Homo sapiens: one gene and its partner. The protein of the gene in region 2 purifies or fractionates together with the protein of the main gene of each other region. This does not show direct contact. Each region holds a gene or a part of one and is shown on either strand. Other genes may lie near its edges.

The links. The genes of interacting proteins can lie anywhere in the genome.
Region 1: the proteins of PARP12 (region 2) and CASC3 purify together in Homo sapiens (co-immunoprecipitation; one large-scale study listed by IntAct). This does not show direct contact.

The regions. Positions count from the first base shown.
Region 1 is NC_000017.11:40,143,462-40,147,112, forward strand, and holds part of CASC3 (protein CASC3), read left to right. Parts: intron 1-3,651. UniProt on the Homo sapiens protein: Required for pre-mRNA splicing as component of the spliceosome. Core component of the splicing-dependent multiprotein exon junction complex (EJC) deposited at splice junctions on mRNAs.
Region 2 is NC_000007.14:140,028,342-140,031,992, reverse strand, and holds part of PARP12 (protein mono-ADP-ribosyltransferase PARP12), read left to right. Parts: intron 1-3,304; coding exon 3,305-3,380; exon of another isoform or gene 3,381-3,381; intron 3,382-3,651.

The DNA of each region.
Region 1 (3,651 bases), on a different chromosome or scaffold from region 2:
TAAAAATGACTAAGATCTAGAATTTCATATTTGCAACATGGTGACTACAGTCAACCAGTAACTTATTGTACATTTAAAAATAACTATTGGCTGGGCACAGTGGCTCATGCCTGTAATCCCAGCACTTCGGGAGGCTGAGGTGGGTGGATAACAAGGTCAAGAGATTGAGACCATCCTGGCCAACATGGTGAAATCTCGTCTCTACTAAAAATACAAAAATTAGCTGGGCGTGCTTGCACGCCCCTGTAGTCCCAGCTACTCAGGAGGCTGAGGCAGGAGAATCGCTTGAATCCGGGAGGCAGAGGTTGCAGTGAGCCGAAATCAAGCCACTGCACTCCAGCCTGGTGACAGGGCAAGACTCCATCTCAAAAAAAAAGTATATATATATATTAATAAAAGAACGTAATTGAATTGTTTGTAACAAAGGATAAATGCTTGAGGCGATCCATACCCCATTTACCCTTACATGATTATTACACATTGTATATCTATATAAAAATATCTCATGGGCCGGGCTTGGTGGCTCACACCTGTAATCCCAGCACTTTGGGAGGCCGAGGCGGGTGAATCACCTGCGGTCAGGAGTTCGAGACTAGCCTGGCCAACATGGCGAAACCCATTTTCAGTCTCTACTGAAAATAAGAAAAATTAAGTAGGCGTGGTGGCAGGTGCCTGTAATCCCAGCGACTCAGGAGGCTGAGGCAGGAGAATCACTTGAACCCAGGAGGTGGAGGTTGCAGTGAGCCAAGATTGTGCCATTGCACTTCATCCTGGGCAACAAGAGGGAAACTCTGTCTCAAAAAACAAAAACAAAAACAAAACTCATGTACTACATAAATATATACCTACTGTGTACTCAACAAAAATTAAAAACTTTCTTTTTCTTTTTTTTTTTTTGCTTGAGATGGAGTCTTGCTCTGTAACCCAGGCAAGAGTGCAGTGGCATGATCTTAGCTCGCTGCAACCTCCACCTCCCGGGTTCAAGCGATTCTCCTGTCTCAGCTTCCCAAGTAGCTGGGATTACAGGTGCACACCACCACACCCAGCTAATTTTTGTATTTGTAGTAGAGACGGGGTTTTACCATGTTGGCCAGGCTGGTCATGAACTCGTGAACTCAGGTGATCCGTCCGCCTCAGCTTCCCAAAGTACCGGGATTACAGGTGGATTACGGGTGTGAGCCACTGTGCCCAGCCCTCTTTTTTTTTTTTTTTTTTTTTTAAAAAAGAGGCAGGGTCTCACTCTGTTGCCCAGTCACCCAGGCTGGAGTGCAGTTGTGGGGTCACAGCTCACTGCAACCTCAAACTGCTGGGTTCAACCAGTCCTCCTGCCTTGACCTCCTGAAGTGCTGAGATTACAAGCATGAGCCACCATACCCAGCCAAAAAAAAAAAAAAATTAAGTTTTTTTTTTTTTTATTGAGATGGAGTATTGCTCTGTTACCCAGGCTGGAGTGCAATGGCTCGATCTCAGCTCACTGCAACCTCTGCCTCCTGGGTTCAAGCGATTCTCCTGCCTCAGCCTCCCGAGTAGCTGGGATTATAGGCGCATGCCACCACGCCCGCCTAATTTTTGTGTTTTTAGTAGAGATGGGGTTTCACCATGTTGGTCAAGCTGGTCTCGAACTCCTGACCTCAGGTGACCCACCCACCTCGGCCTCCCAAGGTGCTGGGATTACAGGCATGAGCCACCGTGCCCCCCATTTTTTTTGTTTTGTTTTGTTTTGTTTTTTAAGACGGAGTCTCATTCCGTTGCCAGGCTGGAGTGCGGTGGTGCAATCTCGGCTCACTGCAGCCTCCGCCCCGCCTGGTTCAAGTGATTTCTCCTGCCTCAGCCTCCCGAGTAGCTGGGACTACAGGTGTGCACCACCACGCTCAGCTAATTTTTGTATTTTTAGTAGAGACGGGGTTCCACCATGTTGGCCAGGATGGTCTCCATCTCTTGACGTCGTGATCCACCCACCTCGGCCTCCCAAAGTGCTGGGATTACAGGCGTGAGCTACTGCGCCTGGCCCAAAATTTTTTTAAAAAGAGAAAAAGCCCAGATAGAGAAGATAGAGAGCGTTTGGGAACTTGGGAGTAATTAGGTGTGACTGGAGCATTGTTGGGACAGGATAGGTATTAGAAATAAAGACAAATTGGTGAGCAGGGGCCACTAATTGGTGAGGTGGGAGGATTGCTTGAGCCTGGGAAGTGAAGGTTGCAGTGAATCAAGATTGTATCACTGTACTCCAGCCTGGGCAACAGAGCAAGACCCTGTGTCAAAAAAAAAAAGTGATGCGATTGGATTTATTTATTCATTTTTTAAAAATTTTTATTTACTGTTTTTTGTTTGTTTGTTTTTTTAATTTTTAGTAGAGATGGGGTTTCACCATGTTGGCAAGGCTGGTCTCGAACTCCTGACCTCAAGTGATCTGCCGGTCTTGGTTTTTCAAAGTGCTGGGATTACAAGCATGAGCCACTATGCTTTGTCTGATTTAAATTTTAAAGATGTGTTTTTCAGATCCAGAGAACACTTGCATCAGAAAATCCAATTAGCCATTCTCTACTGAAACAGACTCTTGGGAGGGGCATTGGAGACTCAGACATTTATGTATTAAAGAATATCCCAGGTTGATGCTATGTACTGTAAAATTTGAGGATTCTTTTATAGCAGTTATTTTGTCCACAGTGAAGAGAAACAAGATCAGAGACAGAAAAGCTAGTTAAGAAAGCTATTGTAGGAATCTAGTTAAGTAGTGAGTGTGGCATGGAATAGAGTGGTGATAGTGAAAATAGAAGTGGACAGAATTCAGAGTTAGAAGTGGTTTTGGGATGGGGAATATTTGCTGCAGTACAGATGCTTTTTGATTTATGGTGTAGTTACATCCCATCCTGGTAAACCCATCATAAGTTCAGAAGTTCAAGATAACTTCTTGGCTAACTTGGAGCAGCAACTCTCTGTTGCTATCCAGCATCTCGAGAAGTACGATTTCTTTTTTTTTTTTTTTTTCTTTTTTTAAGACAGAGTCTCACTCTGTCTCACTCTGTCTGCAGTGGCGTGATCTCAGCTCACTGCAACCTCTGCCTCCCGGGTTCAAGCGATTCTCGTGCCTCAGCCTCCCAAGTAGCTGGGATTACAGGCGCACGCCACCATGCCTGGCTGATTTTTTTTGTATTTTTAGTAGAGACGGGGTTTCATCATGTTGGACAGGCTGGTCTTGAACTCTTGACCTGGTGATCCGCCTGCCTCGGCCTCCCAAAGTGCTGGGATTACAGGCATGAGCCACAGTGCCTGGCCTCTTTTTTATTTTTTTAAAAATATTTTTAATAGAGATGAGGTCACTCTGTGTTGCCCAGGCTGATCTTGAACTGGACTCAAGGGATCCTCCCACCTTGGCCTCCCAAAGTGCTGGGATTACATGTGTGGTGAGCCACTGCACCCAGCTGAGAAGTACAGTTTCTACTGAATGTTTATGGCTTTCATACCACCATAAAGTCAAAATTATAAGTTGAACCATCATACATCAGGGACCGTCTGTAGTCACTAGAGAATGGAAACGTTGGAGAAACTGACAGGCAATATGGAGTGTTCATTGAGTTTTGGGGATTGTGAATTTATAGCAGCTTACCATTCTATATGTAAGGGAGTTTGGATGTTTTCCTAATGGCTAGG
Region 2 (3,651 bases):
TTATATAAATGGCAAATATTTTCTCTTAGTTTGTTGTTTGCCTTTTGACTTTGCCTGTGAAGTATTTTACCATAAATATATATCTCTTATTATTTTAGTTAAATGTATCAGTGTCTTACTGATTCTGGATTTAGAGTTTTGGTTGATTATGACCCTCCTATTTCTGGAAGTCATTTTTTATTCTTTTCCTATACAAAGCCTACCCTAGACAAGGTTTGGAAAAGTCTCTCTGCTTTCTGAGAGTAGATCTCTCTTATTCTAATTTAGTTTTTAGGGGGCCACAAGAAGATGCCAAATGTCCAAACTAAAAGTGATTCAGACTAAGATATGGGTGATTTGGGGTCTCCTGTAAGCGGAGTGTCACACACTGTTCACACAGATGAAGTGTTCAGTTCTTCTCTCTGACCCATGTGCCAGCAGCTGGTTGTCATTAACTCCAGTAAGCAAGTCTGCCTGGGCCTGCATGGCCAATTGGGAATCTGAGGGTAGATCACTTTCAGAAACAACTTTTCTGTTTACACAATTAATGAGGTCATAAAATGTAATGTCCATATTCAGAAGTCATAATACAGGAGTGTCATGTAAAATTTATTTATGTATTTATTTATTTATTTATTTATGAGACAGGGTCTCACTCTGTCACCCAGGATGGAATGCAGTGACCTGATCACGGCTTATTGCACCTTCCACCTCCCGGGCTCAAGCAATCCTCCCACCTCAGCATCCCAAGTAGTTGGGACCACAGGCATGCGCCACCATGCCCAGCTAATTTTTTTATTTGTTGTGGAGACAGGGTCTCACCATGTTGCCCATCCTCTATGAAAATGTTTCATTCATGTGATTGGGTCTTATTTTTTCTTTTCTTACCTTCTTTTGTGTATATGTATATTTTAAAGGCTATGGTAGAAACTACATGTTCTTCACTTAAGTACAAGTAAATCAATATCTTTGCCCTCCTATCTTTTCTTCCATTTGCCTTCCTCTCAACTTTTTTTAAACCTCAAGAGGCACCATTATTTTATACTCTGAAAGTTTCATTAAATTTACTCACATTTTTACCACTTTGTCCTTTCAGATTACCTTAGATCAGGGGTGTCCAATCTTTTGGCTTTCCCAGGCCACATTAGAGGAAAAAGAATTGGTCCACACATAAAATACACTAACACTAACGATAGCTGAACTAAAAGAATAAAAACCACAAGAAAATCTCATAATGTTTTAAGAAAGTTTACAGATTTGTGTTGGGTCACATTCAAAGCTGTCCTGGGTTACATGCAGCCTGCGGGCTGCAGGTTGGACAAGGCTGCCTTCGATGAAGATTTGTTGGAAAACTGTTTTTGGTTTGTCTGAATATGTATGTACGTATGTATGTATGCATGTATGTATGTATGTATTTTGAGATGGAGTCGCACTGTCGCCCAGGCCAGAGTGCAGTGGCATGATCTTGGCTCACTGCAACCTCCGCCTCTTGAGTTCAAGCGATTCTCCTGTCTCAGCCTCCTGAGTAGCTTGGACTACTGGCGTGCGCCACCATGCCCGGCTAATTTTTGTATTTTTGGTGGAGATGGGGTTTCATTATGTTGGTCAGGCTGGTCTTGAACTCCTGATCTCAAGTGATCTGCCCACCTCGGCCTCCCAAAGTGCTGGGATTACAGGCGTGGGCCACTGCGCCTGGCCAACATGTATTTATTTTGCCATCAATCTTGAAGGAAATTTTCACTGGGTATAGAATTTTGGGTTGTAGGGATTTTCTCTTGGATCATTGTGATGATCACTCCACTGTATTCTGGCTTCCACTGTTGCTTTTGAGAAATTGCCTGTTGGTCTAACAGGTGCTTCTTTGACAGTAATCACTCTTTTTTCCTTTGGCTACTTTTAAGAGCTTCTGTTTGTCTTGGAGGTAGGCATCCTCACTAAAGTGTATCTAAGTATGTGCTTTTATTTATCATGGTTGAGATTCTTTGGGCTTCTTAAGCTGCGGATAGGTGCATCTCATCAGTTCTCTTTGAAAATCGCCTCCACTGTCTTGTCTCTCCTCTCCTAGAGCTTCACTTAGGTTCTGATCATATTCAAGTTCTCACTGTTCTCCATGTCTCAACTTCTTTCCTGCATTTTCCATTTCCTTGTTGCTGTGGGCCACATTCTGGACAATTTCATTTCACATATGTTTCAGCTCACTGATTCTTCCTCCAGCTGGTCTAATCTGCTATTAAGCCTGTCCACTACACTTTTATTATTAAAGATTGTACTTAATTCTGTAAGTTCTATTTGGTTCTTTTTTAGATCTTCCAGGTCTTTTTATAGTTTCCTGTTCCTTGCATATGTTTTTAAAGTTTGTCTTTTTTTTTCCTTTAAACATAGGAAGAATAATTGTTTTGTAATCTCTCTGATAATTTCAGCATCTTAAGTCTTTGTGGGTCTGTTTTTGGCTGATTCTTGCTGGTAGGACCTTGCTTAGTTATTTTTGAACTGTGCCATTTTCCCAGGAAAGTTATTTGTGGGAGTTCTTTGAGGCTTAGGATGAAGGTATATGTTTCATGCCAGCAGAAACAGAAGGTAGATCTATTTAGAAAGAACAGTGTATTCTGAAACTTAATAGGAATGATTTGTAATTATAGTTTCACAGTCCTTGTTCCTGAACCCTTGATCCATATGTCTTTTGAACTGCTTTTATTTAATTTTTAGAAAGATAATGTGATGCTTGTATCACGTGACACTCTGTATTTTAGCACATTAATATTTCTGCAGTAAACAATATGCATAGTCAGTTTAAGAAGGATAGATACAGATCACAGTGGCCTCTTACTAACTTCAGTCAAATTTCTACTGCCAAATGACTTTTGATGTCACTTTTATGTTTTTCAAAAAATGTTTTATTTCATATTTTCTCCTGCTTTTCCTGAGCTGTATAAAAAGTTTTAAAATGTCAATTATACCTCATCGAGGCCTTAAAAAAATGTCTTTAGAGCTCTTAGAATTTCAGAATTGTGGATAAAGGTTTATGGCTGTGTGTGTGCTCCTTTAACCATGTACTCCATCCCTTTTATCCCTTTTGTGTGGTAGTTGGGACACAGGCGAGAAATAGATCTCTCAGGACTGTTTGGAGTTTGGCTACATAGGCAAAGATAAAAGTGCTCTCATGTTGTGAATATCGTGCTAACATTCTTCCTTGCCTTCTACCTGCTCTTGAAATATGATGTGCTGAGACTCAAGACTGGTGATATTGGCTAGCAGAGACCACCTATGGTATATTTGCTTTGTGTAAGAATAAAATGTCTACGTGTTTTTGTTTACATTTTTGTAGCAATACCAAGTTTCCAGGCCCGAAGAGCATCCCAGACTATTGGGACTCCTCTGCCCTGCCAGACCCAGGCTTTCAGGTAGGGGACGCATGCGCCTGGGGCTGGACAGGAAGGTGTTCTGTAGAAGTGGGTGTGTGTGAACAGACTGTGCCATTCCTCAACACTGAAGAAGCTGTAAGGCTGGGGCTAATTGGGGCAGGAGGGCAGTGACAGATGTGGGCTTTATTTTTGTTTTTGTTTTTTGCAGAGGGTTTTGTTTTTTCACCACCCAGGAGTTGGCTGTGGCTCTGAGGGGAGGGGTTGTCTTGTGGAGGGAGGAGGATGAGCGTGAAATTTGCTAGAAAGGGCA